4 linked regions of the Homo sapiens genome follow. The protein of the gene in region 2 interacts with the protein of the main gene of each other region in a pairwise test. Each region holds a gene or a part of one and is shown on either strand. Other genes may lie near its edges.

The links.
Region 1: the proteins of CLVS2 (region 2) and FLAD1 interact in binary tests that used the Homo sapiens proteins (3 or more experiments, as listed by UniProt).
Region 3: the proteins of CLVS2 (region 2) and PCYT2 interact in binary tests that used the Homo sapiens proteins (3 or more experiments, as listed by UniProt).
Region 4: the proteins of CLVS2 (region 2) and GSTM3 interact in binary tests that used the Homo sapiens proteins (3 or more experiments, as listed by UniProt).

Annotation. Positions count from the first base shown.
Region 1 is NC_000001.11:154,978,153-154,986,412, reverse strand, and holds the start of FLAD1 (FAD synthase), read right to left. Parts: upstream 3,070-8,260; 5' UTR 2,719-3,069; coding exon 2,347-2,718; intron 1-2,346. Other genes in the region: CKS1B (cyclin-dependent kinases regulatory subunit 1), read right to left, coding at 7,636-7,688. UniProt on the Homo sapiens protein: Catalyzes the adenylation of flavin mononucleotide (FMN) to form flavin adenine dinucleotide (FAD) coenzyme.
Region 2 is NC_000006.12:123,055,128-123,062,532, reverse strand, and holds part of CLVS2 (clavesin-2), read right to left. Parts: intron 6,728-7,405; coding exon 6,507-6,727; intron 1-6,506. UniProt on the Homo sapiens protein: Required for normal morphology of late endosomes and/or lysosomes in neurons. Binds phosphatidylinositol 3,5-bisphosphate (PtdIns(3,5)P2).
Region 3 is NC_000017.11:81,908,215-81,915,955, forward strand, and holds the start of PCYT2 (ethanolamine-phosphate cytidylyltransferase), read right to left. Parts: upstream 3,186-7,741; 5' UTR 3,142-3,185; coding exon 3,053-3,141; intron 2,962-3,052; exon of another isoform or gene 2,687-2,961; intron 1,389-2,686; coding exon 1,300-1,388; intron 1,108-1,299; exon of another isoform or gene 824-1,107; coding exon 662-823; intron 421-661; coding exon 354-420; intron 1-353. Other genes in the region: SIRT7 (NAD-dependent protein deacetylase sirtuin-7), read right to left, coding at 4,202-4,400, 5,560-5,666, 5,873-5,953, 6,080-6,316, 6,390-6,488, 7,226-7,298, 7,397-7,467. UniProt on the Homo sapiens protein: Ethanolamine-phosphate cytidylyltransferase that catalyzes the second step in the synthesis of phosphatidylethanolamine (PE) from ethanolamine via the CDP-ethanolamine pathway.
Region 4 is NC_000001.11:109,737,887-109,745,589, forward strand, and holds the start of GSTM3 (glutathione S-transferase Mu 3), read right to left. Parts: upstream 3,153-7,703; 5' UTR 3,067-3,152; intron 2,626-3,066; 5' UTR 2,402-2,625; coding exon 2,354-2,401; intron 2,023-2,353; coding exon 1,947-2,022; intron 1,608-1,946; coding exon 1,543-1,607; intron 481-1,542; coding exon 399-480; intron 306-398; coding exon 205-305; intron 1-204. UniProt on the Homo sapiens protein: Conjugation of reduced glutathione to a wide number of exogenous and endogenous hydrophobic electrophiles. May govern uptake and detoxification of both endogenous compounds and xenobiotics at the testis and brain blood barriers.

The sequences.
Region 1 (8,260 bases), on a different chromosome or scaffold from region 2:
AACTCTGTCTCTACTAAAAATACAAAAAATTAGCCAGTCGTGGTGGCGGGCGCCTGTAGTCCCAGCTACTCGGGAGGCTGAGGCAGGAGAATGGCGTGAACCCGGGAGGCGGAGCTTGCAGTGAGCCGAGACCGCGCCACTGCACTCCAGCCTGGGTGACAGAGCGAGACTCCGTCTCAAAACAAACAAACAAAAACCCCACAAAAATTAGCCAGGCGTGGTGGCGGGTGCCTGTAATCTCAGCTACTCGGGAGACTGAGGTGAGATAATTGCCTGAACCTAGGAGGCAGAGGTTGCAGTGAGCTGAGATTGCGCCATTTGCGCTCCAGCGTGAGCAGCAGGAGCGAAACTCCGTCACACACACACACACACACACACACACACACACACACAGCCGGGCGCAGTGGCTCATGCCTCCCAGCACTTTGGGAGGCTGAAGCGGGTGGATCACCTGAGGTCAGGAGTTCGAGACCAGCCTGACCAACATGGAGAAACCCCGTCTCTACTAAAAATACAAAAATTAACCGGGCGTGGTGGCCCATGCTTGTAATCCCAGCTACTCGGGAAGCTGAGGCAGGAGAGTCGCTTGAACCCAGGAGGCGGAGGTTACGGTGAGCCAAGATCGAGCCATTGCACTCCAGCCTGGGCAACAAAAGTGAAACTCTGTCTCAAAAAAAAAAAAAAAAAAAAAAAAAATTGGGGTCAGGGCCAGGTGAGGTGGCTCACGCCTGTAATCCCAACATTTTGGGAGGCTGAGGTGGGTGGATCACTTGAGGTCAGGAGTTCGAGACCAGCCTGGCCAACATGGCGAAACCCCATCCGTCCCTACTAAAAATACAAAAATTAGCCAGGTGTGGTGGCACATGCCTGTAGTCCCAGCCACTTGGGAGGCTGAGACAGGAGAATTGCTTGAACCTGGGAGGTGGAGGTTGCAGTGAGCCAAAATTGATCACGCCACTGCACTCCAACCTGGGCAACAGAACAAGACTCTGTCTAAAAAAAAAAAAAGGGTCTATTAAGGCTGAGTGCAGTGGCTCATGCCTGTAATCCCAACTACTCGGGTGGCTGAGGCATGAGAACTGCTTGAACGCGAGAGGTGGAGGTGCAGTCAGCTGAGATCCCACCAATGCACTCCAGCCTGGGCAACAGAGTGAGACTATCTAAAAAAAAAAAACAAAAAAAACAAAAAAAACACAAATTTACAAAGAATATTAAAAAAGATTATTATTAAAACTTGACATTTGGCCAAGCTCAGTGGTTCATGCCTATAATCCCAGCAAGGTGTGGGAGGATTGCTTGAGCCCAGGAGTTTGAGACCAGCCTGGGCAACATAGTGAGACCGTTTCTGAAAAAAAAAAAAAAAAAAAAAAAAAAAAAAAAATTAGCCAGGTGTGGCGGCTAACACCTGTAGTCACAGCAACTCCAGATGCTGAGGCAGGAGGACTGCTTGAGCCTGGAAGATGGAGGCTTCAGTGAGCTGTGACTGTGCCACTGCACTCCAGCCTAGGTGACAGAGCAAAATCTTGTCTCAAAAACAAAAAAACCCGTGTCATCTGTTATGTCCTCTAGTAAGACTTTCCTGATCATTCGGAGGGGATTCATCCCTTCTAGTACCTTCCTTCTAGCTCACTTATCCACTACGCTGAGTACCTTGAGTCATTTCCAAAAAGGCTGGGTAAAACTCTTTTTTTTTTTTTTTTTTTTGAGACGGAGTTTCGCTCTTGTTGCCCAGGCTGGAGTGCAATGGCACGATCTCAGCTCACTGCAACCTCCGCCTCCCACGTTCAAGCAATTCTCCTGCCTCAGCCTGCCAAGTAGCTGGGATTACAGGCATGCACCACCACGCCTGGCTAATTTTGTATTTTTAGTAGAGATGGGGTTTCTCCATGTTGAGGCTGGTCTCGAACTCCTGAACTCGTGATCCACCCGCCTCGGCCTCCCAAAGTGCTGGGATTACATGCGTGAGCCACCGCACCCGGCCAAAACTCTTAAATATACAATACACACACCTGTACCTCCTCTACTCGAGGGGCTTCCTGTCATTGTTGTGTAGCTCCTCTGCCCTCTACCATACTGCTTGGTAAATTGCAATGACCTTTTTATTTTTCTTTTTTTCAATCAGCTCTCTCAGGTTGAAAAATTGTAGGGACTTTGCTACAAGTTTTTCAGTAGAGTAATTGAAAGAATGAGGGTTAATTTTCCTCCAATATGCTGGATTCACTCCAGGATCCTACTGCAGCAAAGAGGCTCCCACCCTGTTTCACCTCCTTCCATGGAGGGATGTGCAGCAGGCCCTTAAGGACAGGAGAACGCAGCGCCCTCCCCCCTTTTCTGTCCCAGACACACCTTAAGGATCTCATCTCCAACAATGATGATGCCAGCCGTCACGCTGCGCCCCGGAGAAAGTTCAGAGGCCCTAGATGTCATGGTCCTGCCTTCTCTGCCCCTCTGCAAGGCCCTCCAGTAGCCACCCAGACCCCCAAATAGGGGTCGCAAGCACGGGGGGCCTGCCAGGTCTACAGGGCACTGGGGGCCATAGCCTGGGAACAGGGGGTCCTGGGTCGAGGGAACCTGGAGAAGCCAGAAAAGACAATGGGGGAGAGCAGGCGTGCGCGTGCTTCCTTCGAGGAAGACCCTAGTCTTCTCTAACCAGATCCTTGACAAGCGACTCCTTTGTTCCTGCCTCTGGAATAAACGTGTTCCCAAATCCCAACCCATGTCCTTTTAAATGTCTTGCTTAGCTCTAGTCTTAAAAACTTCTTCTCTCTTGAGAACCTACCACTTTAAGTGTCTTCCGTTTGCTGAGCTGGTCTCCTCAAGTGTCTGCTCTACCTTGGGCATCCGTACCCCTTTAAATGTCTACCTTATCCTGGGCCTTGGCCCTTTTCAATGCATTCGCTCTCCACCCCGGACCAAAATCCCGTCTCTTTCTACTTCAGGCTTCTGCACCCTTTCTAGCCCAGAATCCCTTCTTCCCACCAAGCTTCAGATTACTGAGCCCTCTTAGACTCTCACCTGCCTGTTCTGCCCCTTCACCGGCTCTTTCCCTTGTTCCTTTCCTCATGTCCCGGGGCAGCTTCCGTACTTAAAGTCCCGCCTTGCACCTAGCTGACATTGAATGGTGATTTTGGCTGTCGCTTAGACTCTTCCAGGGTCCCATTGGTGTATTCAACTGTCGCTCTCAGGCTTTAGCCAGTGGATGGGAGCAGGGCCGGATTGTTATAGGCGACAACCACGTGGTCACTTCTCGCCCGGAAATACGGGGGCCGGACCTTAGCCCACGGTCGGGGGCGGGACCTCGGGAGTTTAGGGCGGGAAAGGAGCCGTAGTTAAAGGTGCTGTAAGGCCCTCGGGGAGTTTCTGGTGCTGGATTCAAATAATTGTTATGCATGTGTTGCTTTGTTTTGTTTTGTTTAATGGGTCAGTTAGCCATGGTTTAAGCTGTTTTCATTCACCGTGACTCTAACACTAGGCTAAGGGCTTTTACTGGAGTGAGAAAGCATCTTATTTATAGCAGAAGGAAGTTGGAGGGACACCGAGAAAGATTATTACCACTGTCTGTCGGATATGAAGACCCTGGAGTAGGTGAGCTTTTGATGTGTGGAACCTTAATTTATCTCTAGTATAGTAGACAAAACGAATTACTTAAATCTCTTTGACAAGAAAGAGTCCAAAAACCCTCTCTTCCTCCACCTTGCTCCAGATGGTGCTTAGTTCAAATGACCTTTCCCAGTAATTGGTCTTGTAGGTGCAAATGAGGCAGCGAATAGGGAGTGCCTTACATGTTTACTCTGGATCCTCACATCATCCGAGCTTACCCCCATTTCAGTTGCCTTTGTTCTAAAAGTACATCTTAAACTTTTTTCCAACAATAATCTGGGGATCTTTTCATATGCAGATTGATTCAGTAGGTTTGGGTGGGGCCTGAGATCTGCATTTAGCTAGTTCCCATGTGATGGTGATCCCACTGCTCTATGGACTACATTTTGAATGGTAAGGGCCCGAATTCATTCTTTGTTTTTTTGAGACGGAGTCTCCCTCTGTCACCCAGGCTGGAGTGCAGTGGCGCGATCTCGGCTCACTGCAAGCTCCGCCTCCCGGGTTCACGCCATTCTCCTGCCTCAGCCTCCCGAGTAGCTGGGACTACAGGCGCCCGCCACCATGCCCGGCTTTTTTTTAAAAATTTTTTTATTTTCATTTTTTTTTTAGTAGAGACGGGGTTTCACTGTGTTAGCCAGCATGGTCTCGATCTCCTGACCTCGTGATCCGCCCGCCTCGGCCTCCCAAAGTGCTGTGATTACAGGCGTGAGCCACCGCGCCGGGCCGAATTCATTCTTTGTAGGACTGGTAAACCACACCTTGCCAAATTTTACTCTTCAAAACCCTTGGTCGGGCGCAGCACTTTGGGAGTCTGAGGAGGGAGGATTGCTTGAGTTCTCTCAATTGAAAAAAAGAAAAAAAGGCCGGGCGCGGTGACTCACGCCTGTAATCCCAGCACTTTGGGAGGCCGAGGCGGGCGGATCACCTGAGGTCAGGAGCTGGAGACCAGCCTGATCAACATGGAGAAACCCCGTCTCTACTAAAAACACAAAAAATTAGCCGGGCGTGGTGGCGGGAGCCTGTAGTCCCAGCTACTCAGGAGGCTGAGGCAGGAGAATGGCGTGAACCCGGGAGGCGCAGCTTGCAGTGAGCCGAGATTGTGTCACTGCACTCCAGCCTGGGCGACAGAACGAGGCTCCATCAAAAAGAAAAAAAATACCCTGTAAGATACACATCATGCTCATTTTACAGATGAGGAACAGGCTCAGAAAGGTGAAGGGATGCCACACAACCACAAAACACAGTGAATGGTGGACCCAGGTGATCAGGTGTCTAGACCATTCTTTTAAGTAATAAGCCCCCCCTCCCTTTTTTTTTTTTGAACCAGGGTCTCTCTGTTGCCCAGGCTCGAGTGCAGTGGCGCAAGCACCGTTCACTGCAGCCTCGACCTCCTGGGCTCAAGTGATCCTCCCATCTCAGACTCCAGAGTAACTGGGACCACAGGGGCGCCCCACCATGCCTGGCTAATTTTTGTATTTTTAGTAGAGACGGAGTTTGGTCATGTTGCGCAGGCTGGTCTTGAACTCCTGGGCTCAAGTGATTCCCTGCCTTGGCCTCCCAAAGTATTGGGATTACAGGTGTGAGCCCCCGTACTTGGCCCTCATTTCTTTCAATTATAAAAAGTCAGCTCTTTGAAAAAAAAAAAAAGGGCAAAACAAGAATTCCACTTGCCTAGTAAACCACATGTTCCAATATCTTTATTAGCAATACAGGTGATATTTGATCCCCTCCCAAAACAGAATACCAAGACTGTTCCAGTATTTTCCTAGTGGATTCTCAAGCTTAAGTGTACATCAGAATCAGCTGGAGAGCTTGTTAAAACATTGCTGTGCCCAATCCTGAGTTTAGGATTCAGTAGGTCTAGGTTGTTGCCCAATAATTTGCATTTCTAATGAATTTTCCCGATGTTGATGCCTGCTATTTTAGGAATAAGTGGATGGAAGACAGGAAAAATGGGGGAGATTAATATCCTTACTTAGTACTAGTATTTTTTTTTCTTTTTTTTTTGAGGCGGAGTCTGGCTCTGTCGCCTAGGCTGGAGTGCAGTGGCGCAATCTCGGCTCACTGCAAGCTCCGCCTCCCGAGTTCACGCCATTCTCCTGCCTTAGCCTCCCGAGTAGCTGGGACTACAGGCGCCCACCGCCTTGCCCAGCTAATTTTTTTGTATTTTTAGTAGAGACAGGGTTTCACCATGTTAGCCAGGATGGTCTCGATCTCCTGACCTCATGATCCGCCAGCCTCGGCCTCCCAAAGTGCTGTGATTACAGGCGTGAGCCACGACGCCCGGCCACTTAGTACTACTGTTTTGTTAGACTAGAGGGGAAGTTATTATTCTGTGGAATGTTTTTTTTTTAAATTGAGACACAGCTTCTGTCGCCCAGGCTGAGTGCAGTGGTGTGATCTTGGCTCACTTTCACCTCTGCCTCTCGGGTTCAAGCGATCCTCTCACCTCAGCCTCCTGAGTAGCAGGGATTACAGGCACACACCACGCCCGGCTAATTTATTTTTATTTTTTTGAGACAGAGTTTCACTCTTGTTGCCCAAGCTGAAGTGCAATAGCGTGATCTCAGCTCACTGCAACCTCTGCCTCCCAGGTTCAAGTGATTCTCCTGCCTCAGCCTCCGGAGTAGCTGGGATTACAGGCGTGTGCCACCACGCCCGGCTAATTTTGTTTTAGTAGAGATGGGGTTTCACCATGTTGGCCAGGCTGGTTTCAAACTTCTGACCTCAGGTGATCCACCCACCTCAGCCTCCCAAAGTGCTGGGATTACAGGCATGAGCCACTGCACCCAGCCTAATTTTTGTATTTTTAATAGAGACGGGAGTTTCACCATGTTGGCCAGGCTGGTCTCGAACTCCTGACCTCAAGTGATCTGCCCTCCTTAGCCTCCCAAAATGCTGGGATTACAGGTGTGAGCCACCACGTGTGGCCTGGAATGTTTTCTTAAACAGCTACATTTTGCACCTGTTTTCTCAAAGCTTAGTTCTTTACCTACCTGCATAAGATGCCTGAAATCTTTACCCCCAGTCCACACTCCAGACCAATTAAGAATCCTTAAGAATGACTCAGGCAGGCATCAGTACTTGTAAAGCTCCCCAGGTGATTCCAACGCCCAAGCCAAGTTAAGAACAGCTGAAAACCTTCCCCAACCAAGGGGCACAGTGAATAGGTCATAGATATGCCTATTATTCCTATTAGGAATTGGGACACACAAGCAGCCCCTGACTGACAGCATCCTTTTATCCATGTGTGCCATTCAAATATTGGGACTATGTTAAAGGCAGCACCCCGACTGTAGGAAGCAGTTCATTTGTTTGGATGAGATGAAGTTGTCCCTATATAACCTCTACCTCAGGCTAGTAGTTAGAGTGAAATATATTTCAGTAGATGTTTGACAGCAAGTCTGCTTAAAGTAGATTAAAAACCAGTTATCTCAATGTTAAACCTCATTATCAGCAAAGAGCTGAGCTTCATTATCAAACTGAAGGGCATATAATTAGAACCATGATATTGATGATGCTCACCCTGAGTGAGGGGGAAAAAACCCGTACAATTACAGCACTAGATTATAAAAACTTCCTCTTTAATCAAGGCTTTTAACATGAACAGATTTCTTGAATAAAATGGAAAGTTTCCAGTACACTGAAACATAAATCCGCAAGTCACCACACATACAACACCCGGCAGGAAAAAACAAAAACAGCAAGTTTACATGATCCCTGTAACAGCCATGGTCTCAAACTCAGATGCTTCCTCCATCTGCCAAGTGTGTTCTGGATACAGAGCACATCGTGGCTTCTGGGGTCACACTCAGCTTAGGCTGTGGGTCCACAGAGCACTCATCTGGCTGGGCTATGGTGGTGGTGGCTCTACTCAAGAAGCAAAGCAGTTACCAGCACATTCAAACAGTGTATTGAACATCTTTTAAATATCAAAGTGAGAAACAAGAAGGCAACATAATAATGTTATCAGAAAGATGTTAGGAAGTAAGGACAGCTGTGTAAAGCTTGAGGCTGAAAAGTAGCTTGCCAGCTTCATTTCTTTGGTTTCTTGGGTAGTGGGCGCCGGAACAGCAAGATGTGAGGTTCTGAAAGAGTGAGGGAAATCTAAGAGACAAGCTCACACCATTCTATGTACAACCTATAGTGTATTCCACTACCACCTCCCCAGCTATCACCCACTCAGATCTTTATAACTAAATAAAGACTTAAGCATATGGCCTTAGAAGCAGACCCAGAAGTCTGGACTGTCTGCCAAGTACAGAATTGTTAATATCAGTTCTTTTGCTATGTTTATACAGCCCCAGGGTGTCCCTTATTAGTTTTGCCTGGCAGCTGGGTGTCTGGTGTCTTATCAATAAATATACTTTCCTTTGCTTATTTAGAACACATCCAAGAATGTTTTCGATGGAGAATGAGGCAGGGGCTATGATCAGGCTATATGTGGCCTTAAAAAGAATACCCTCTGATTGAATGAAAGATTACAGGAGGTTTTTCAGTGACAGGTTGTCTCTGAACTTCCCAGATATTTTAGTCTTATTTTTGGTCACTAGTTTTTTTTTAAAAAAATCCCCCACGACTGGAGGGGGAAGGAACCAGTAAACCATTTCCTATCTCCCTATTTGGGTTATACAATCTTATTCTTTCATTCTCTCAGTGT
Region 2 (7,405 bases):
TATTTTATCTCAATATTAAATAGGCATTAGATGCCTATCATGGAAAAAAAAGACTTGCTAAAGTTGTGTGTGTGAGCGTAAGACAGAATAGATGAGGATATAAGATAATAATAGGATAAGATATGAATATAAGAATAGGATGAGGAAAAGGACAATAAGGAGAAAGAGTAGAGAGAATAGAGATTTTGTGTCACTTTTAAATGCAATAATACATAATCATCTTTATTTAAAGTACATGAATAAAATACTTTTTAACAAAGGAGACAATTGCACAAAAGACTAAGTAATTAGACTTCTAACTTTGTTTTTAGGTAAGACCCAACCAAGCAAATTGGCTCTCAGATGAATTCATGTTCAAAGAGAAAGAGGCTCATTTAATGTCCTGTGCTAAAGTATTAACCTGACAACTGATATGCACTAGACTGCAAGTTCCATAAGCAGGGACTTTATCAGTTTCTTTCCTTATTGTGAATACAACATGCATCATAGGGCTTGGAAAAGAGTAAGTTCTTCATGTCTTGACTTCTAGCCAGTAAATAATTTCCAAATTGAAAGAACTTCAGTATTAAGAACTCAAAATGAAGAGTAATGAGGATAATAAAGAAAGCAATTCTGTTTTCTTTATAGAAAATAAATTTTAAATTTTTCATAAAATTAAATATATAAATATTGAGGTATATCCTAATAATATTCCATAAGTACATACCAAAGCTCTTCAGACTGCACAAGGCACAATAGTTAAGCATTTGCCCTAATATACTATTACACATTATACAGACATGCTCACATATACACATTCTAAGTCTGTGTGTTTCCTGACTGTTTTTGAAAACAATATTAGAGAATATGACATTTTTAACAAAATATTTTAAATTACAGTGTATTATTCAAGCTGGGATTAAGTTTCTAGTTTGCTTTTAGTATGCACTACAGATATGAGGATTGTTGGATGATGAATGCTGATTCCATATGTGAAACAATGCCTCAATCACAGAACAAAAGTGAGTCAGAAACAATTTGTGATTAATTCTTTTTCTTTTTGGTATTTAGTTGTCCCAAGTGTATAGTTATTTTAGTCCAATTTTTTTTTAGTCTCTTTTATGACAGAACAGGATTATTTGTGCAGGATCAGAAGTATTAATGAATTGATTTATTCTAGCCACAGCAGAGGGAGCTATCATTAACTCATACATCTCAGAGGTTTCTGGGTTTTTTTTTTTCGGTTTTGTTTTGTTTGAGGCAAAGACTCACTGTGTCACCCAGGCTGGAGTGCAGTGGCACCATCTCGGCTCACCGCAACCTCCGCCTCCCGGGTTCAACTGATGCTCCCACCTCCCCCAAGTAGCCAGGATTACAAGCGTGCACCACCATGCCTGGCTAATTTTTGTATGTTTAGTAGAAATGAGGTTTCACCATGTTGACCAGGCTGGTCTCAAACTCCTGACCTCAAGTGATCCACCCGCTTTGGCCTCCCAAAGTGCTGGGATTACAGGCATGGGCCACTGTGCCCAGCCCATCTCAGGGGTTTCTATGCAGCTTCTATTGTTTTCACAATGAATAACTTTTCTTTCTTTCTTGAAAACTAGTAATTTAGATTTAGATATCCAATACTCATTTCTCATGCATCTACAATACATAGTGTTTAAGAAACTAGATTTCGGACAGAAGTAGATCATAACTCCAGTTGCTAATAACAGCAGTTTACTAGCTGTGTGATCATGGGAAGACTAAACTTCCTAAGATTTTGTTCTTTATTGTTTAAGATGGGAAAAATAATACCCACATCATAAAGTTATAATGAGTATCAGATGCAACAATGCATCCATAAACCCCGGCACAAATTCTGGCATATGGTTAATGAAATGGCTCATGGAATACTATTGCCTATGTACAGATATTAGCATTGCTACTTTGTAGTTATGCAACATGTGGAAGTCACTTACCTTTCCTGTTTCTCAGTCTCTCTATCAATAAAATGGGGATACTACTACTTTATTACTTGCTTCAAGAAGCAAATGAATCAACATACATAGAGCATTGGAACAGGGTTTGGCACAAAGCAATAATAAATGCTTAACCTTATTCAATAATAATATATTCAATATTCAATAATCAGAAGTGCGTATCATGAAATAGGTATGGTTACTTTACTCACTACTGTTATGTGCCAGGCACTATCTTAGGCATTGGCGGCATAAGGTAAAAGACACTCTCCAGTTCTAAAATACTTAGTCTAGTGAACTTTGCATATTTACACATGACTATGCTTCTCCTCCAGAAATTAATACAAAAAGACAAGTCATCTTTTTGCATGTCTAGCTACATTTACCCAAAAGAAGAATTATCCACAACTCTTTAGTGATGGAATTATTTTCTCCCTCTTAATCTAAAGATATCATAAAACTACAAAAAGAAAAGGGCCAAGGGGAATCAGTGTGGAACATAGGAGCAATCTTCTCTTGTCCTGGATGGCGAACTGCCATTCCCTGACATAGAGAACATGAGAATCAAGTGCAACACCTTTCTTAATCTCATTTTTCAGTTTTCCATAGAATCATAAATGTTTCATATGATACCAAACGTACACCAAACAATGCCTAAAACTCTAATCAGCCCATGACACCAGCAGGAAACTCAGGACTGGGGCCACTAATGGGCTACAAGCAAAGTGTGTAGGGGAGAAAATGGTCTATTTAATTGGAGAAAAGAATCAGGATACAAAAGGTGGATAGACTAGGCTATATCTAACAAGATGGGCCTTAATCAATTAAAATAATGTGATTGGAGGACAAACCTAAACAATAGGAGGATATGGATTGGTAAGTAAAGAGACTTTCCAGTTTTAGGAACCCCCATACCAGTCAGTTTTGGCTGCTTGAACAATAGCAACAGTGACAACAACAGCAACCCAAAGAAGCCAGTGAGGTCTATCCTGCAAAGCCAGAACTCTGCAACTTAAATGCAAGTGCCAATACCAGGTTAGATGTTCCCTATTCAGTTATGAATACTGCACTTAAAGGGGGCCACTGATGGGCAGCAGAGCACTCCTCCATGCATTCAACTGGTATTTCCTGAGCACCCTCTGTTTTTCCAGGACCTTCTCCAGGCACTGGGGATTCAGAGAATAAGGTAAACATAGACAATATGGTCTCCTTGAAGCTTACTTTGGGGTGGGGTGCAGATATAAAATTAAACAAAATCAGCAATTTCAAAGGCTAAAAGTGTTATGAAGAGAATAAAATAAAGAAGGGTGATGGACAGGGAGTGACCAGAATGAAGAGGAAACAGAACTGACTAAGACCAGGTGGGTGACAAAGATCAAAAGACTCTTTCGAGGAGCTGACCTTTGATTGGGACCACCCATTTGAAGATGAAGGAAAAGAACATTCCAGGTGGCGGTGACAAGGGCAAAAAGAGAAGACTAATGTGTCTGAAAAGCAGGGGAAGAGGAAGCAGACAGGATACACCTGGAGGAGAGAGGGAGGCAGGGTCAGATCAGGTAGCATCTTGTAAGCCATGATAAGGAGGTGATTGTATTCATTGTATAAATAGCAGTCATTAAAAATATAAAGCTAAGGCCTGCCTGGTGGCTCACACCTGTAATCCCAGTGCTTTGAGAGGCTGAGGCAGGTGGATCACTTGAGGCCAGGAGTTTGAGACCAGTCTGGGCAACATAGTGAGACCTGGTCTCTACAAAAAAATAAAAATAAAAAATTAACTAGTCATGGTGACAGGCACTTGTAGTCCCAGTTACTTGTGGAGCTGAGGTGGTAGCATTGCTTGAGTCCAGGGAGTTGGAGGCTGCAGTGAGCCATGATCACGCCACTGCGCTCCAGCCTGGGCAACACAAAGAGAACCTGCCTCAAAAAAACAAAAATAAAAATAAAAATAAAGCCAAGATGTGACATGGTCTGATTCATATTTTAAAAAGATTTTTGGATTGCCATGTGGATAATAAATTGGGAGTAGGGGAGCAGGTAAGGCTGGAATCAACAAGAACAGTTAAATAATTTTTAGGGGGTGGGTGCAGCTGAGCAGAGTGCAGGTGATGTGTAGAAGATACAGAGAAAAATGTGCTCACGTGATGGGCCACATGAGGAATCATGCCTCAGGCAGAATGGCTGAAGAAAAAGGGCCTCATTAGCTGACAAAGAAGAACACTAGTGGACACCGATGACAGCTGCCTCCAAATCCTTATGTAGTTCAGTTCTGAGAAAGGGCCTCTGTGCCACGAAGGGTAGGCAGGCTTTATGTCAGTGGTGTGAAAGACTCCACATCTCATGCAGTGGAGCCCTCTGCTCCACTATATATAGACTACCTAACGTTGAGGATGCAGTATCTGTTTAACACGGTTGTTGTGAGGATTTATAAATTAATGTAAAAAAAAGACACCTACTTCATGAAAAGTACCTAGTAAATGATAGATTATAACAACTGTTATCATTAGGATTATTTTATTAGAAGAAAACTATTTTAGGGGGAGTTGCTTTTAACCACTTTTGTTTTTAAAAACTTTCAAATAATTTGATGAAATATATGACTTCTCCCCAGAAAATATATGCATGACATATACATATAGTACATTCATACTTACGCACACAAAATTTTGCATACAACTTTTAGCACTTAACAGAATCCTTTGAGAGCCCATCCATGAACCCCTTAGGAGAGCAGAGATCTTGAGAAGTTCTGTTCTAAAAGAAGGGAGTTAAGAAGCCTAAAGTTGGTTTAAATATAAGCTTGCTAACTAGTGGAAAATTAGAGCAGGGAAAATTTCTGGCCTTTCCGTTCTCTCCAAGGAGTTGTGCAGCAGCCTGGAGAGAGGAAATCAATGCACACACATACTAACAACAATCACAACAGAGGCAGCAGCATAAAAGAGACCATCCTGGCCAGGCGCAATGGCTCACTCCTGTAATCCCAGTATTTTGGAGGCCGAGGCAGGTGGATCATGAGGTCAGGAGTTTGACACTAGCCTGGACAAGATGGTGAAACCCTGTCCCACTAAAAGTACAAAAATTAGCTGGGTGCAGTGTTGGGAGCCTGTAATCCCAGCTACTCCAGAGGCTGAGGCAGGAGAATCCCTTGAACTAGGGAGGTGGAGGTTGCAGTGAATCATGATCGCGCCATTGCACTCTAGCCTGGGAGACAGAGCTAGACTCATCTCAAAAAAAAAAAAAAAAAAAAAAAAAAAAAAAGAAGACCATCCTTAAAGAACAGGCACATTACTCCATGAGTCAGAGCTATGGGCAAAGGGCCTTAAGGCTTTCATCAGAGAAGGATGCCAGACATTGGCATGACCCGTTCATTGTCCTTGTATCCTCCCTGAGCTAGGTGAGGGGAGACTTGCAGGGGCTACGGTGCCCATACTTCTGTGAATGTGAAATGAACTGGAGAAGTAATATTTGTTACTGTTATCCAAATGGACCCTGAGCTGTGGTTGCCTGGGAAGTCTGAGAATTACACATCTACTTGTTTGTGACAGAATGCAAACTCAGAGCCAGGTATGCATTTGTGCAATGTCTGACAACTCCCCAGACTATTGATTGAAAGATAAAAGGCATAAAAGTGCTGTGAGAGTCAAAGCAGGTATTTGGACTCTGACTCAACAATGAACTCTATAAAGATTAAAACTGAAGTGAAATACAATGTTTTGTACCAGTAATGTTTAGACCTTTAGACAAAGACTTGGCAGAGATATTGAAAAAGGACCAGAAACTTTGAACACAGTGTTTGAACTGGTGTGTGTGGTTGCTTTCTTCAAAAGAAATCTTACACAGAAATCCAATAAATTGCTTATAGGAGAGTTGCTCCCACAACAGTGGAAATGGGCACTCTCTCTACTCCACCTACTTGGCCTAAGGCACCCCCTCAAAACCTTTGGTTTCTCAGGATACAATTTGAAAACCACCAGATTTGGTGACTTCCAAGGGCCCTGCTAGACTGTCTGTGAATTTGGAACAACACTAAGTTGAGGTTACCTCAAATTACTTTATCTTTTCCTTAATTGACAGATAATTGCATATAGTTATGGAATACAATGTGATGGAAAAATACTGCATGATTTCACTTATATGTGGAATCTAAAAAAAGTCGAACTCATAGAAATAGATAGTAGAATGGTGGTTACCAAGCACTGGGATGAGGCAGGATGGTTTGGGGGGGTGGATAGGGAGATATTCATCAAAAAGTACAAAGTTTCAATTAGACAGGAAGAATAAGTTTGGGAGATCTATCATACATCAGGGTTACTACAGTTTTCAAATATATGATAATAATGTATTGTATATTTGAAAACCGCTAAGAGAATAAATTTTAAATGTTCTCACTATAAGAAAATGACTTTATCTTTGACTCAAAACTCTTAGACATACAATCATAGGGCATAAAGAGTTTTAAAATCCCACCAGAAAAATGTATACAGAAAAACAGAAAGCTTTGAGTTTGACTCAGGATGCCTCTCCCTGCCCTGGCCCAGCCCACTCCCCAGTCTACCTCCAGCATACCTCTTCATGGACTTTGGGGAGAGTTCCTTCTCTACTTCCTTCACAGGCATGCTGTAGGAGTCTACATTGTACTCGCTGTCATCGTCATATTCATGGTCTAGCAGTGTTCTTGCCCATGTCCCCATGTCATAAGGAGGCAGCATTCCTCCAAACTCAGAGGGCAGGATCTCAGGATGAATTAGTTGGTGTAGACTGTTCAGGTTGTTACCATGCAAAAATATCTATAAATGCAAGAAGACGGGAGGAAGGGAAAGACACAGAGGAAACTAAATACCATCTAAATCCTACAGGGGGGATGTGAGGATAGCAATAGCAAATATGAGTTTCGCATGTCTGTTAAAGTACTTTAGCCAGTCATCTACTCTGTAAAACAGGCAGAGCTGGTACTGTTATCCTAATATATCATACCAAAATCCTGAGGCTCAGACACTTTAAGTAATTTCTGGAAGGTCAGAGAGTTATTGGGTAAAAGAGCTGCAACCACAAATTTGGTTTCCTTCTTCATAGGCAGGGACATGGGCAGAATAATACGTACATGCTGATCTGTACATCATCCTGGTGTTAGTTGTGCAAACTTGATGATGTGTATAATGAATGCTGTGAAAACAGACCCTTCTCATAAGGGACTCATCAATTACAGAGCCTATGCAAGTTATTACACCAAAAAGCTGTCACTTGCAAGGCTTTCTCTTTATCATCAATAAAAATAAGAATATTGTAACCACTAAATTACTGTTTTATAATGCAAAGTGGGTGATGTAAATAACCAAAGTAGATTAGCATCGTCATAATGAAAGGCTGAGTGAAGTTCATGTCCCAAAGGACATTATGTTCTGTAATGTTGCCAGTATCTTCTCTACTAAAGATTTCCATACTGACTGTCCAAATAGAAAAAGAAA
Region 3 (7,741 bases), on a different chromosome or scaffold from region 2:
TGCAGCATCTCATGCGGGAGCCACTGGCCTCATGTCCCTGACGTCTGGTAATTCAGATATAGTGCCAGCTCCCCAGCAGTGCCAGCCACGTCCCCCGAGCTCAACAGCTGCCACCTCACAAAGCTGTGCCTTTGGAGCCCTGGGGCCATGGGTCTGCAGCACCAAATGGCAAGGGCCTCCAGGCCACCCCACAATGGCACCTCCATCCCTCGAGTTCCCAGTCCTGGGCGTGAGGAACATGGCCCAGGGCCTGGACGCTCCCCTCACGGGCTCCCGGTAAATAGCAAAGCACGAGCCAGGAGGGAGCCCCGTGTCCAGCTCCCTGGATGGCCAGGCCCGCGGTGGAGACTCACCTGTACCTCCCAGCCTGCTTTACTTCCTCATAGGTGTCCCGGCCATCTACAGTCAGGGTGATGTCATCTAAGCAGTGACACACAAGGACAAGGATCCTTAACCCAAAGCCACCAGAACCTTCAGAGCCCAGGACCCTCTCGGCCCCTGGCCTGCCCTAGTGTCCGCGTGCCCATTTCTAGGTGGGGGCCCGGAAATGTCTCAGATCCTCAAAGGGCGGAGGCCCCCTGTTCCCGGATGTCCCACCAGCAGATCTGATCCTGAGCCACCTGATGTCCCCAGGCCCCCAGGTCCCAGCCCCGCCACTCACTGCCGTGAACACAGAAGTCACAGTTGTATTTGTCCAGGGTCTCTAGTGTAGTGACGTAGGGAGCCGCTGGCACCACCTCGTCCACCCATTTGATGGCCTGCACCATCTTGTATCTCTCCTCCTGAGTGAACACCGGGGGCCCCTTGTGCTTGGCGATCTCCTCTAGGAAAAGGACAACGGGGAGACTGGGGACCCCAGCCCACCCGGCCCCTCCAGTAGGAGGCCCCTTCCCAGCACCCAGCTGTAGCCACACAAGAGGGCCGGTGGGGGCAGGCTGTCTCTCTACCCTGGCCCTTAGCCCACTAGTGCTGGCCAACTGGGTGGCTCTCTTCCCTGCGAGGGTCTCAGGCAAAGGCAGAGATTCCTTCTGACGAGCAGGTGCTCAGCCCCTGAAGGCTTGGGAGCCTCGCTGGCAGTGGTGGGGAGCAGGTGCCCCTTCTCTTTAGCTGGGACAGGAAATGCAAGATGGGAAAGGCATTAGGCCATCCTCAGCTGGGGCTGGGCTGGGTGAGCCTACAGTGCCCTCCCCTACAGCTGTGCCCTGGCAAGGTGGCCCCAGGCCTGCAGGCTTTCAGTCAACAGTCGCAACCCACAGGAGGGCTGGGGGGCCGCGGGTGGGCGAGGCCATCTGTGCTTACCATCGGTGTGCACGCCTACGATGAGGTAGTCACCCATGGCCCGTGCCTGGCGCAGCTGGTTGGAGTGGCCGTAATGCACCATGTCATAGCTGTGGAGACAGAGAGAGTGGGTGGTCCCTGTGCCAAGGGTGGGGACCAGGTGTCCCTGTGGGTTAGGGGCAGAGCTTTGCTCCTCTGAGGACTCCTTAGGAAGCGCTCTGAGAAGCTGCTGCTGGGAGCCCTGGGACTGGGATTCGGAGGATGTAGGTGCTCAGCTCTCCACCCCACTGGCTCCTGGGCCTGACGGTGGGACCCCTGTGCCAGATCTAGAAAGGGTGGCAGGGGCAGAGATGTCAAGGCCTGGCTGGGTCTAGAGGACTGGTGGGTGCAGGACAGACTGGAGCCCACTGAAAGCTGCAGGGCCACGTGTCCTATCCCCTCACCAAATATCAACTGCCCTGGGCAGTCACTTTAAAATAAGCCGATGTTAACTCTTGGGGTAGGGTTGGATCCTAGACTACCTTGAGACAAGCAAACAGTCCCTGGGGCTAACCCAAAACAAATCCAACCACAAAATAAAACCCTGGGAATCACTGGCCCTGAAAATCCTGTCTCTCCTCCCTTACGGCCTCAAGCTCAGCAGGCTTAACGCTAAGGGTGAACAGCCACTGCCTTGCCACCTGGCTCGAGAGTTTTCATTCACAAATCTAGGTCTGCTAACACGTGAACTCTCAAGCCCAAAGCTACACAGCCCTGCCACCAACTGGGCCTCGCTGCCCTGGCTTCTTCGCCACTTCTTTACAGCAGCGGCCCATCCCCTCAAGTGGACAAAGCTGTCCCTGCCTCTCCAGGGAGAGGTGTGACCCTGGCAGCCCACACAGTGCACAGAGTTGCTCCACTGCACACCACTGCTTCCTCCCAGCACCCCTGCCACAGTGCGCGGAGCCCGGCAGACATGCTGGGTAAAATCTGGCGGGCCCATGTACCCACTGGACAGGCTGGAGGGGAGGAGGGGGCAGAGGCTGGGCCAGGGGAGCACAGTCTGGAATGGGGCTGGGGCCTGGTCAGGGCAAGGTCAAAGTCCACTGACACAAAGCCACATTCCTTTTCCCAGAGGTGACTCGGACACAGAAGACAAGGCCCTGCTTGCTCTCCTGGGAAGGGCTAATCAGATAGAGGCGCTTGCTTCCTGGATTCCATCCGGCAGGCACGTGAAAGGGTCAGAGGTAGCAAATTATCAGTAACGGTCGTCTTCCTTTCACTTGTTGACAACCCGAAACTTTTCTTAAAACAATGCCCTCTGACTGGCCAGGGAAGACCGATCGCATTCTAGCCCCGCGGAGGAGGACCCGGGAGCCCGCGGGCTTCACCGCGGGTCCCGGACAGGCAGGTCGCACCCGATGCCCACCTACAGGGACGCTCGCCCGGAGGCCAGGGGAACCCCTGGACCGGAGCCGGGCAAGCTGGTTGCTGGTGGTTACGGAGAAGCAGGGAGGCCGTGGCTCCAGATCTCAGCGCGGTGGCTGCACCGGAGAGGTCGGCGTGACCGGGCGGGGCCTCCGCCAGAGGTAGACGGGGTCGCCCACGGCAGGGCGCGGAGCCTCTGCAGCCCGACCCTCCCGGCAGGCGAGCCCCGCAGCCTGCCAGCCCCGGCCCATGCCGGACGAGGACGCCACCCAGAACGCGGGCCCGGTCCCCGGGCAACGGCTGGCGCGGCGCCCCGGAAGGAAGCCGGCCCCGGCGCCCCCGCGGCCCGCCCCGGCCCCGCGCTCACCAGCCATCGCACCACACCCTCACGGCGCGCCTGCCCCCCGGGCCCGGCTGCTCTGCGCCGCCTGCAGCCCCGCGCCCGTTCCGGATCATGGCCCCGCAGCGGCGGCGCGGACAGCCTGGCAGCTCCCGGCGACTCCGAGCGCCGCCGCCCGCCCCGCCAGGCGCACGCTCAGCGGCCGTCACGCGGGCCTCACCCGCTGCGCACGGCCAATGGCGTGCGCCGCTCGGCCCGAGCCCCGCCCCCGCCTCCCCCGCCCCGCCTCCCGCCCTCCGCCCCGAGCCCCACCCCCCGAAGGCCGCGCCCCACCGCACCTCCGCGCACGGCCAATGGCGTGAGCCCCTGACAGAGTCCCGCCCCCTCCAAACGCACAGCCAATGGCGTGTGCCGCGCTTTCCGAGCCCCGCCCCCCGACCCACACCTGGCCTCTCCGCACCGCCCACACCTGGCGCTCGGCTGGCGGGGCAGTGCGGCGTGGGGACCGTCCCACCGCCGCCACCTCCGGGAACCTCCACGGGGCGCTGTCCCAACCAGGGGAGTTTTTTTTCTTATTTTTTGGCACAATAATCTACAGTTGTCCCCTGTCCAACCAAGGGAGTTTTAAGCCACGACCGAGCTGCCAGGCGGCAGACCTGAGCCCGGGGAGCCCGCGCCGACCACTCGGGGACACCGGAAGCCAGTGCAGAAACGTTTAATAGAAATAAAAAGGTCTGCATAGAGCCGAGGCTCGGAGCCACCCCTCTGCCGCACATCCAGTACAGAGAGGATTCTATAAAGTTCACACTTTTTCATTAAGTAGTAGTAGAAATACGGTGAGGCCCTGAGACTGGCCTGGTGAGCGAGGAAAGGCCGCTGGGCGCTTCCACTCTGCAGGCCGGGGCTGAAATAACCCGAGTTCCGTTCTCACAGAAAGGTGCGGCTGCCACCTCTTGACACAGAGGCCGGATGGGCAGGTGTCCTCGATGGCCAGGCCGTATCAGGGTACAACCGCAGCAGTGCAAGGGGCTTCCTCAAGGACAAATGGCTAAAAATGTCACGGTGAAAATGTCATCCCCAAAGAGTTCGTTCTCCCTAGACCCGTGGGGGCAACCCAGCCTTCACCGTGACACTGGCCATCTGCAAAGTGCCAACTGTTCTTCATCGAGCACGTGATTACGTCACTTTCTTCCTTTTTGTGCGTTTTGTGCAGCCCCTGCCAAACCAGCCCCCTAGGATGGGGGCCGAGCTAAGCGGTGCACCCCGGTCCCCAGGCGGGGCCTCCTCTCTGCTTCTGCACAGCGACTTCCGACTGTGGCTGCCTTCTTCACCAGCACGCAGGGGAGTCGCCAGTGAGAAAATGGGATCCTGCCACCTGCCAAAAAGGGAAAGCGGCATCAGGCGGGCCTGGGAGCCTCTCGCAGTCACACCTGCCCCAGCTCGGGAAAGCTGTCTGCGGTCCCTGCCTTCCCATCCCCTTCCCTCCCGTGTCAACTGCGGCGGGGCTCTGGTTGGCGGCAGCTTCATTGTTACCAAGCTGCAGAACGGATGTGGGAGAGGTCACCTCTTAGGTGGTGACTCAAAGGTCGGCACCCACACTAGCTCGGTCTCCTCAAAACTCCGTGTCCTTGTCCACCACTGAGCGGCGTGCACACACAGGGTGGGGCAGCAGTGGCCCCAGGGCTGCCTCCGTCTCCAGGGATGAGTCACTAGCAACTCTGGGCCCCACCTTCCACTTGTACCGCTGGGGCAGGTGGACCAGACCCTCTCCCCCTTCCCAGCTGACTAGGGAGGCGTGGCCTACAGACGACCCCGTGAAGAAAGCATGTGTCTGACGGAGATGCAGAACCACAGATCATAACTTAAGATACAGATACGCACTGATAAGGAAAATGAGCTAAGTTAATGTAAAAAAAAAATACAGTACACGATAGCCCACATCACAGAACACCACACACATAACATACAAGAAGTGCCAGGCCCAGAAGGTGAAGGGATCCTTAATTTCTTGAACCCTTTGATTAAAAGAAGTTATTGATTTCCCCTATAAGACCCTGAAAATTCACAGAGAAAGAGAGTGTAAACTTTTTACTCAATACATACACCAAGTCTAAATTATCACAAATTCTGTATTAAGGCACAGTTTGTTTAAGCTTTCCCAAAGTACGCCAACTCCCAAAACCAAGCACACAGATTCTGTCTGACCAGAGCTGCCGAGTGCTCGTCCCCTCCAGATGCTTCCCACCAGGCATCTCGGAGAGCTCCACGGGGAGGCCTGGAGCAGGAGCACGCGGGCAGAATCCCTCTCCCCGCGGGGATTGTGTGTGCCACATCAGCCAGGGCAGGAGTGGCACACGCAGGGTCTCCGCCAACCACCGAGGTCAGGCCCTCTGGAGACCACCACGCTTCAGTCATGCCTCAGGCACCACTGCAAACACCTCAGAGCTTCCTCCACACTCAGCTCACGAGAGAAGACAGACAAGGCCCAGCACACAGAGGTGCGGGGAAGCAGGCTGCTGCAGCGGCTCACTCACCTGCTATAGGCGGGGATCTCCAAGCCCAGCTCGGCCATGAGGAGCCGCATGACGTCATCACACTTCCCATGTAGCTTCAGGGCAGCCCAGTCATCCTTCGGGGTCCACTGAGGACAGGGAAAGCCGAGTGAGAGTAACAGCAGCCCAACCCTTCCCGGTGGCCTGTCAGCCTTGGCCCCTACGGGCTCAGTCGGTGCTCCCTGAGCACCCACGGGGGCCCTATCAGACCGCCCTGGTGCATGGGTGTGGGGTGTCTCTGGCTGTGCGTTCTAAGACCCAGATCTAAGGACGTGGCTCTCAGCACCCGAGTTACCTGCAGGTTCACGATGTAAAGCTTCGGCCGCCGGCTAGGGGGCTTGGTCATGCACCAGAGGCGTGGGTACTTCTTTAGAACCTGTGGAAGCAGACAGACAGACACCGCACACACACAAGGGACAAGTCTGTACAGTGCTGGGCCGCAGAGCTGGACACCCTCGGGCGGGCAGGGGCTCGGTTCACTCATTGTGTCATCGGCACGTACCTTCAGGCTGGACCCTAGACACAGGATGGTGTCTGCTCTGCTGGCAGCCTCGGTCGCCGCTTCCCAGTTCAAAGGCTGCCCCAACGTCCCCCTCTCCCCAAAGTGCACAATGGTGTCCCGCAGCTGGGTCCCACACTTGTGGCAGGTCCGGCCTGTCTGGTGTCTGTGGAGGGCAGTGCGCTCCGTCACATCGAACACCCGCACGTACTCCCTGTTGGGAACGCAGGAGGTACAGACCTAGAGGCAAGAGGGCACAGTGAGTGGGACCCGCCTGCCCATGGAGACCCTGGGTCCCTGCAGGACTGCTCACTTCAATGTACATGTTCCCGTGGAGCTCGGAGATGGCCGTGCGCGGCAGCCCACTCCTCAGGTGGAGCCCGTCACAGTTCTGAGACACCACATGCTGCACCTGGAAGGCAGAACGGGTGGCAAGGGGAGGGATGGCTGCCAGTGGTGGTGGGGAGGTCAGTACCCGGCCACAGCGAGGCTGTTCTGAGCCCCGCCGATGGCTCCCAAAACCAGGGGCAGCTCCGTCCCCCCAGAGAGCCTTAGAAAGTAAAACACACAACAGGTCCAACCACCAGGAGTCAAGAGGGCCTGTGGTGGGGAGGGGCTGTCCTTCCTCCAGCCCTGATGCACCTGGAGTGGCTGGGAGGGCAAGAGGTTGCACCGTCCCGGCAAGGTTGGGAAGTGGCTCGGGGTTTGGCAAGGGCCACTCTGCCCCAGATCCATGCTCTCTTGGGTCATGACATTTCAGGTCCCTGGGGACCTAGGCAGATCAACCACTACACCCCATTGGTTGAGGGTGTTCAGCAGAAGGTCCCCAGAGATGTCCTATAAGCCTCCCCTGTGACTAGGATGGCTTCTGAGGTCCACAGAAAAATGCAAGGGAATCACAAAGGGGAAAGGCCACCAGCAGCTCTGAGGCTGAGGCTGGCTGCGGATGGGATGGTTCAGAGGGGGAGCTCCCCTTCTGTCCTGGAGAGTCAAGCACAGGAGGATCAAACCCGCGGCCTAACCCGCTTGGTGGGTGCTCATCATGGGAGTCAACTGGCAGACAGAGGGCGGGTGCAGTTAGTTGCCCACTGGGCACCAAGGTGCTCTGCCTGGTCCCTGGCAAGTGTACCAGCCACCCAGGGCTCTTACCAGCTTCTGCTCATGCAGACGGGTGATGCTCATGTGGGTGAGGGTTGGCTCGGCCTCGCTCAGGTCGGCAGCACTGCCAGGCAGAAAGGAAGGCAAGGTGAGGAGAGCTGGAGCTCAGGCCCGTGCTGCCGCTGCCCAGCCTATGTGGGAGGCCATGCCTGGCCCGCTTACCTAACGCTTCTCCCTTTCTGAAGCAGTGTCCACACTCCATTAGGGCCCCGGTAGTCTGGGATAGACGCTGCCTGCATGTCGAGAAAAAAGGTAAGCCAAGTCAAAAGGCACCACTGTAGGTACTGGCAGAATTCCCAGAAACGGAAAGCCACTGTCACTCCTGCCGCATTCCGGGCTGGCCTGCATGTTGGCCTCTATTCATTCCACAGGCTGACCTGCCTGAGCCCATATGGAGTGTACCCCAATTCGGCTCCTCCCTTCTACCTGGACTTCCGTTTCCCGCCTGGCCTGGCTCATCCTTCCAGGCTGCACGCAGCCCTGCCTGCCTCCGGAAGCCTCTCTGGC
Region 4 (7,703 bases), on a different chromosome or scaffold from region 2:
GAAAGAGGAGTTTAGAAAGAAGAGGCACCAGCACCAGAATTACATGACAAAACAAACCAAAAAATATAAGTTCTGTTTCTTATTCTAACAATCTGGATTGGTGGGAAGGTAGCAGCAGCAGAATGGAACAGAGATAACCCTTGGGTTCCTAAATACCCCTTTTTCTGATACTCCATTCAGCAGATGTGTGCTAAGGAAACTCACGTGGTCAGAGCTGTAACAGAGCCTTATCAGTTGTGTGCGGAAATCCATTACTTGGTTCTCTATGATGTCCACTCGAATCTTTTCTTCTTCAGTCTCACCACCTGTAGGCCAAATGACAACAAATCACCCTTGGCATCATCCACTCTCAGACAAACTACCAGCCTGGGGTCCCTCACCAGCCCTACCCCACTCACACATGTTGTGCTTGCGAGCGATGTAGCGCAAGATGGCATTGCTCTGGGTGATCTTGTTCTTCCCATCCAGGAGGTAGGGCAGCTGAAAGGAAAAGGACAGGACAAATGAACAACCTGCCTCTCTCTTGATTCCCTACCTCTCTCTCCAGGGGAAAAGAACACTTGCAGGGCAGTGAACAAGAGTGAGAAGATGCTGTGTTAGGAGAAAAAAGAAAATAAGTAGAAGGTAGCAACTGGGTCCACAAGATTCTAGACAGGGGTTCTTAAATTGGTGTGTGTATGTGTGAGTGTATGTGCATGCCATGGACCTTTTCTCAGAATAAAGTTGTTAAATGCATGAAGCAAAATAGATAATTTACACAATCAAAAAATATTTTTAAAAATTCAAATAAGAGTAACATGTGCCTATTAGTGCATTAAATAGCAAGCAGATGTAATGACTAACATAATCTCAAAGTAAATAACATTATATGTATATATTTACTTACATGTATATAAATATCACTTAAAATATCTGCAACGCATGTTATAGAATATGAAACTACCTGATTTCAGGCTGGGCACAGTGGCTCATGCCTGTAATCCCAACACTTTGGAAGGCCGAGGTGGGAGGACTGTTTGAGCCCAGAAGTTCAGGATCAGCCTGGGTAACATGGCAAAACCCCGTCTCTTACAAAAATACAAAAATTAGCTGGGCATAGTGGTGTGTGCCTGTAGTCCCAGCTCCTTGGGAGGCTGAGGTGGGAGGACTGCTTGAGCCTGGGAGGTTGAGGCTGCAGTGAGCTGTGATTGCGCCACTGCACTCCAGCCTGAGCGACAGAGTGAGACACTGTCTCAAAACAAAAGAACAAGAAACACACAAAAAAGAAAATACCTGATTTCTACTAGTGACAAAGTGACAGACATGGCTAATAACCAATGTCACTTATTGTCTCTCTTCACAATAAAAGGAAATAACTTTTGCTAGTGGTTAATGGGAATGAAAATACATATCCATCCAGTTCAAGGACCCCTGAATTCTATTTATTCTATCCGGGTTAAGATCCCCTATTTTGCATCCTTCTGTACCAGGCAGGAGAGAGGCAAGGATGGATATACTTGAAGGCTTTCCCTTCTGCCCGCCACCTCTACTAAAGCCACTTACATTAGGAAAGTCCAGGTCTAGCTTGAATTTCACATCCAGCCATTGGCTTCGATCATAGTCAGGAGCTGTAAGAGACGGAATTAAGTGGGACCCAACCTCCTTAATACCCCACCTGACAAGAGCAAAAGATCTAAAGAAATGACTTGGTCCCAATACCTCAAATTCCCAGGCCCCAAAAGCATAACCATTGAGCCTCTGAGCCCTATTTGGTTAAGCATTAAGACGGGTTTGGGCTATGTTAAAAAGAGAACCCCCAGTTCCAGATAAAGGATGTGTCTCTATTCACCCAGATTGGGGCAAACGTCCCACCCGGCCTTGGCGCGACGCCACCACCCTCTGGGCGTAAGAAGACCAGGGCAGGTGGAGGGCCAGCTTGGCTGCACGGGCACGCGGAGCGGCATTACCTTCCCCGCACGTGTACCGTTTCTCCTCATAAGAGGTATCCGTGAACTCCAGGAGCAGGCGGATGGCGTGCGCCAGCTGGGGAAGACAGCGGTTCAGCGACTGCGCAGCTCCCACCCATTCCCAACCCCCGCCCGCTAACGTTCCCCGGCCCGGGGCTGCCGAGTCCCTGCGTCCTGCCGGGGCGGTGGTTAAGCGGCCCCTAGGCCCGGCTCCGGCGTGGTCTCCTCCGCCCCTCCCCACAGGGCCCGCGATCCCAGAGGCTGGGCAGGGGTCGACATCCGTGGCTCGGCAGCTCGAAAAGGCTCCCGCGTAGAGCTGCTCCTGCTGGAGATCGCGGACCCAGAGACCCGCCCTCTCCGCGTCAGTCTCTTTGACCGAGCGGCTCTACCGTTGAGACGGCACTCACCCCACGAATATCCCAGTACCCGAGAACCATAGACGACTCGCACGACATGGTGACGGGCTTCCGAGCCTTCGAGGACTAGGGAAACTGTGAGCGGGAGGGGCTTTATACCCGACATAAGGGGGCGGGGCCCACGCGCGGGCGCCCTGACTCCGCCTCCGCCCCGTTCTCCGTCCCTTGCCTCCGCGGCTCCACAGGGCCGTGCGCAGGCGCGACTAATGCCGGCGTTGGGGTTCAGGGCCTGGCGACCCCGAGGCGGGACCCGGGCAGGAGTGCTGCAGGAGAGCAAAGGACCCGAGGTTGAGGCTCCTCCCTTCCCCGCGGGTGGGAGCCAGACTTCATTCATTAATGGTGCCAGTGAAGACGCGAAAAGCACCACTAGCCAGGCAGTGGGGACCCTAGTTACCCAGGGAGAGCGAGATTCGCGCCGTTTTTACCGAGCCAGCCGGGGCTGGATGAAGGATAGGAAGACTGGGGCAAGGCCGGAGAGTCAGACCAGCCTCTGACCACACAGAGCAGAAGATTCCCCACAGACCAAGCTCCCCTCTCTGTCAGTCAAGGACCTCTGCAACCTGACCCCAACGTGCTTTTCCAGTCCTGTCTCTCCCTCAGCCCGTCACAACTTCATAAGCCAGCCCAACCCAACAATACTTGCTGTTCCTTCTACACACACTTGCATTTCCCACCTTGGAGTGTTTGCTCTGTGATCCTCCTACCTGCATCCTAATTTCCACAGCCTATCCTTCCTCAGCAGCCTTGCTGAAATGTCTGCCTATTCCTTGAAGCCTTCTCAGAACCAACCTCTATCCTGGCCAGAAGAGGTCTCTTATCTTGAATGTTTCCTACCTTTGTTTTATGGGCTTAAGTAATTTATGGATTCCTTATTATAATTTCCTCCTCCAATCCCTCCCACTTCCTAATGCTCACGCATTTAGGGAAATTAATCTTGCCTCTTTGTGTAGGATGGACTGGAGGAGGAAAGGTACTACCATTTTTCATTCACTCATTCATCTGTCCAACAATGTTTAACATGCCTGTTATGGACAGGCACTGTTTTAGGTGCTGGGGATACAGAACTGAACTCAACAGACAAAATCCCTGCCCTCAGGAAGTTTACATTCTAATGGGGAAGAAATAAACTAATATATAGTAAATAGCTAGTAAGTCAGGTGGTGATACACATCCTATGGAGAGAAATAAAATCGAGAAGAGAGATAGGGGGTCTCAGGGTGGGAACTGGGGGAGTCCCAGTAGGAAGGGGATTTATGTTTTTAAAGGTTATGTTCATAGAAGGCCTCATGGAGAAGTTAATCTTTAAACAAAGACCTGAAGGAGGTGAGAGATCAAGCCACTCTGCTGTGGGGGCCACCATGGGCTGATATAAATATAAAACAGAATAATTGCTGTTCCTTTTACAAGCATGTTTGCTCTGCTCCTGCCTGCACCCTAATGTCCATGGCCTAGCCTTCCTCAAGTAGCCGTGCTCAAATGCTCACTTCTTCCTTGAAGCCTTCTCAGAATCACCCTCTATCCTGGCCAGAAGAGTTCTCTCCCTCTCTTATCTCGAATCACTTCCTACCTGCAGGAGGCAGAGAGAACTCCAGGAAAAGGGAAACAGCAAGTACAGGAGTGATCACTCTGTGTTTGAAACCAGAGACTAGATGAGATCACCATGGGAGCACGAGTAGCAGAGATGAGGTCTAAGGGTTTGAGGTGCTCTGGCATATCAACATGTAAAGGTTAGGGAAAAATGAGAGCAAACCAGCAAAGGAGTCTGAAAAGGAGTGGCCAGGGAGGTAGGAGGAAAACAAAAGGTCCCAGAAGCCATGTGAAGATGTTTAAAGGGAGAAGTGATCAACTATGTCAAGTGTGGCTGATCAAGTAAGATGAAGATGGAGAATCAATGGTTGAATTTAGGAAAGTAGGGGTTTTGACCTTGACAGAGCAAGAGACCTGCCCGAGGCCCCTATAGTCATGGGAAGAACTAAGCTTCTGAATTTCGGCAGGGCCCATGCAAATGAAAAGGGGCACAGATTTGCAACAGGGTCAACTCGGGAGACATAGGATTCTAGTTGAATGTGGAGGAGTGACAGAGGAAGGAGTCCGGAGCTGCTCTGAGGGTTCTGGCCAGGCCTCTGCAGCACAGCTCTCAGGGCAGTCTGAGAGCCTAGATCCCCTAGCTCAGGTGTGGGAAATCACATTTGCCCATCAGTTCAACTGAAGCAAGGTTGGGACTTTTTAAAAGGGCATTTTGCTAAACAGAAGAAAGGAAGAGTACAAACCACATGGACAGGTGAAATTTATAATGCCTGTGTCTCTCCTCCCAAGAAAGCAAAAGGCCAGTCACAAATTCACCTGAGGTATAAGATTAACATTTATTGAGCACCTATCATATGCCAGGCAATATCTAAGTGTTTACGTATGTTAGCTAATTTATTCCAATTTAAGCTTCACAACAACTTTAGGAAGTAGGTGTTATGCCCATTTTCTTTTCTTTTTCTTTTTTTTTTTTTGCAGTTTTTGCATTACTTTCTTTTTTTTAAATTTTATTATTATTACACTTTAAGTTTCAGGGTATATGTGCACAATGTGCAGGTTTGTTACATATGTATACATGTGCCATGTTGGTGTGCTGCACCCATTAACTCCTCATTTAACACTAGGTATATCTCCTAATGCTATCCCTCCCCCCTCCCCCCACCCCACAACAGTCCCTGGAGTGTGATGTTCCCCTTCCTGTGTCCATGTGTTCTCATTGTTCAGTTCCCACCTATGAGTGAGAACATGCGGTGTTTGGTTTTTTGTCCTTGCGATAGTTTGCTGAGAATGATGGTTTCCAGTTTCATCCATGTCCCTACAAAGGACATGAACTCATCATTTTTTATGGCTGGATAGTATTCCATGGTGTATATGTGCCATGTTTTCTTAATCCAGTCTATCGTTGTTGGACATTTGGGTTGGTTCCAAGTCTTTGCTATTGTGAATAGTGCCGCAATAAACATACGTGTGCATGTGTCTTTATAGCAGCATGATTTATAATCCTTTGGGTATATACCCAGTAATGGGATGGCTGGGTCAAATGGTATTTCTAGTTCTAGATCCCTGAGGAATCGCCACACTGACTTCCACAATGTTGAACTAGTTTACAGTCCCACCAAAAGTGTAAAAGTGTTCCTATTTCTCCACATCCTCTCCAGCACCTCGTTTCCTGACTTTTTAATGATTGCCATTCTAACTGGTGTGAGATGGTAACTCATTGTGGTTTTGATTTGCATTTCTCTGATGGCCAGTGATGGTGAGCATTTTTTCATGTGTTTTTTGGCTGCATAAATGTCTTCTTTTGAGAAGTGTCTGTTCATATCCTTTGCCCACTTTTTGATGGGGTTGTTTGTTTTTTTCTTGTAAATTTGTTTGAGTTCATTGTAGATTCTGGATATTAGCCCTTTGTCAGATGAGTAGGTTGTGAAAATTTTCTCCCATTTTGTAGGTTGCGTGTTCACTCTGATGGTAGTTTCTTTTGCTGTGGAGAAGCTCTTTAGTTTAATTAGATCCCATTTGTCAATTTTGGCTTTTGTTGCCATTGCTTTTGGTGTTTTAGACATGAAGTCTTTGCCCATGCCTATGTCCAGAATGGTATTGCCTAGGTTTTCTTCTAGGGTTTTTATGGTTTTAGGTCTAACATGTAAGTCTTTAATCCATCTTGAATTAATTTTTGTATAAGGTGTAAGGAAGGGATCCAGTTTCAGCTTTCTACATATGGCTAGCCAGTTTTCCCAGTACCATTTATTAAATAGGGAATCCTTTCCCCATTGCTTGTTTTTGTCAGGTTTGTCAAAGATCAGATGGTTGTACATATGTGGCATTATTTCTGAGGGCTCTGTTCTGTTCCATTGATCTATATCTCTGTTTTGGTACCAGTACCATGCTGCTTTGGTTACTGTAGCCTTGTAGTATAGTTTGAAGTCAGGTAGCATGATGCCTCTGGCGTTGTTCTTTTGGCTTAGGATTGACTTGGCAATGCGGGCTCTTTTTTGGTTCCATATGAACTTTAAAGTAGTTTTTTCCAATTCTGTGAAGAAAGTCATTGGTAGCTTGATGGGGATGGCATTGAATCTGTAAATTACCTTGGGCAGTATGGCCATTTTCATGATATTGATTCTTCCTACCCATGAGCATGGAATGTTCTTCCATTTGTTTGTATCCTCTTTTATTTCCTTGAGCAGTGGTTTGTAGTTCTCCTTGAAGAGGTCCTTCACATCCCTTGTAAGTTGGATTCCTAGGTATTTTATTCTCTTTGAAGCAATTGTGAATGGGAGTTCACTCATGATTTGGCTCTCTGTTTGTCTGTTATTGGTGTATAAGAATGCTTGTGATTTTTGTACATTGATGTTGTATCCTGAGACTTTGCTGAAGTTGCTTATCAGCTTAAGGAGATTTTGGGCTGAGACAATGGGGTTTTCTAGATATACAATCATGTCATCTGCAAACAGGGACAATTTGACTTCCTCTTTTCCTAATTGAATACCCTTCATTTCCTTCTCCTGCCTAATTGCCCTGGCCAGAACTTCCAACACTATGTTGAATAGGAGCGGTGAGAGAGGGCATCCCTGTCTTGTGCCAGTTTTCAAAGGGAATGCTTCCAGTTTTTGCCCATTCAGTATGATATTGGCTGTGGGTTTGTCATAGATAGCTCTTATTATTTTGAGATACGTCCCATGAATACCTAATTTATTGAGAGTTTTTAGCATGAAGTGTTGTTGAATTTTGTTAGAGGCTGTTTCTGCATCTATTGAGATAATCATTTGGTTTTTGTCTTTGGTTCTGTTTATATGCTGGGTTACATTTATTGATTTGCGAATGTTGAACCAACCTTGCATCCCAGGGATGAAGCCCACTTGATCATGGTGGATAAGCTTTTTGATGTGCTGCTGGATTCTGTTTGCCAGTATTTTATTGAGGATTTTTGCATCAATGTTCATCAAGGATATTGGTCTAAAATTCTCTTTTTTGGTTGTGTCTCTGCCCGGCTTTGGTATCAGGATGATGCTGGCCTCATAAAATGAGTTAGGGAGGATTCCCTCTTTTTCTATTGATTGGAATAGTTTCAGAAGGAATGGTGCCAGCTCCTCCTTGTACCTCTGGTAGAATTCGGCTGTGAATGCATCTGGTCCTGGACTTTTTTTGACTGGTAAGCTATTGATCGTTGCCACAATTTCAGAGCCTGTCATTGGTCTATTCAGAGATTCAACTTCTTCCTGGTTTAGTCTTGGGAGGGTGTATGTGTCGAGGAATTTATCCATTTCTTCTAGATTTTCTAGTTTATTTGCGTAGAGGTGTTTGTAGTATTCTCTGA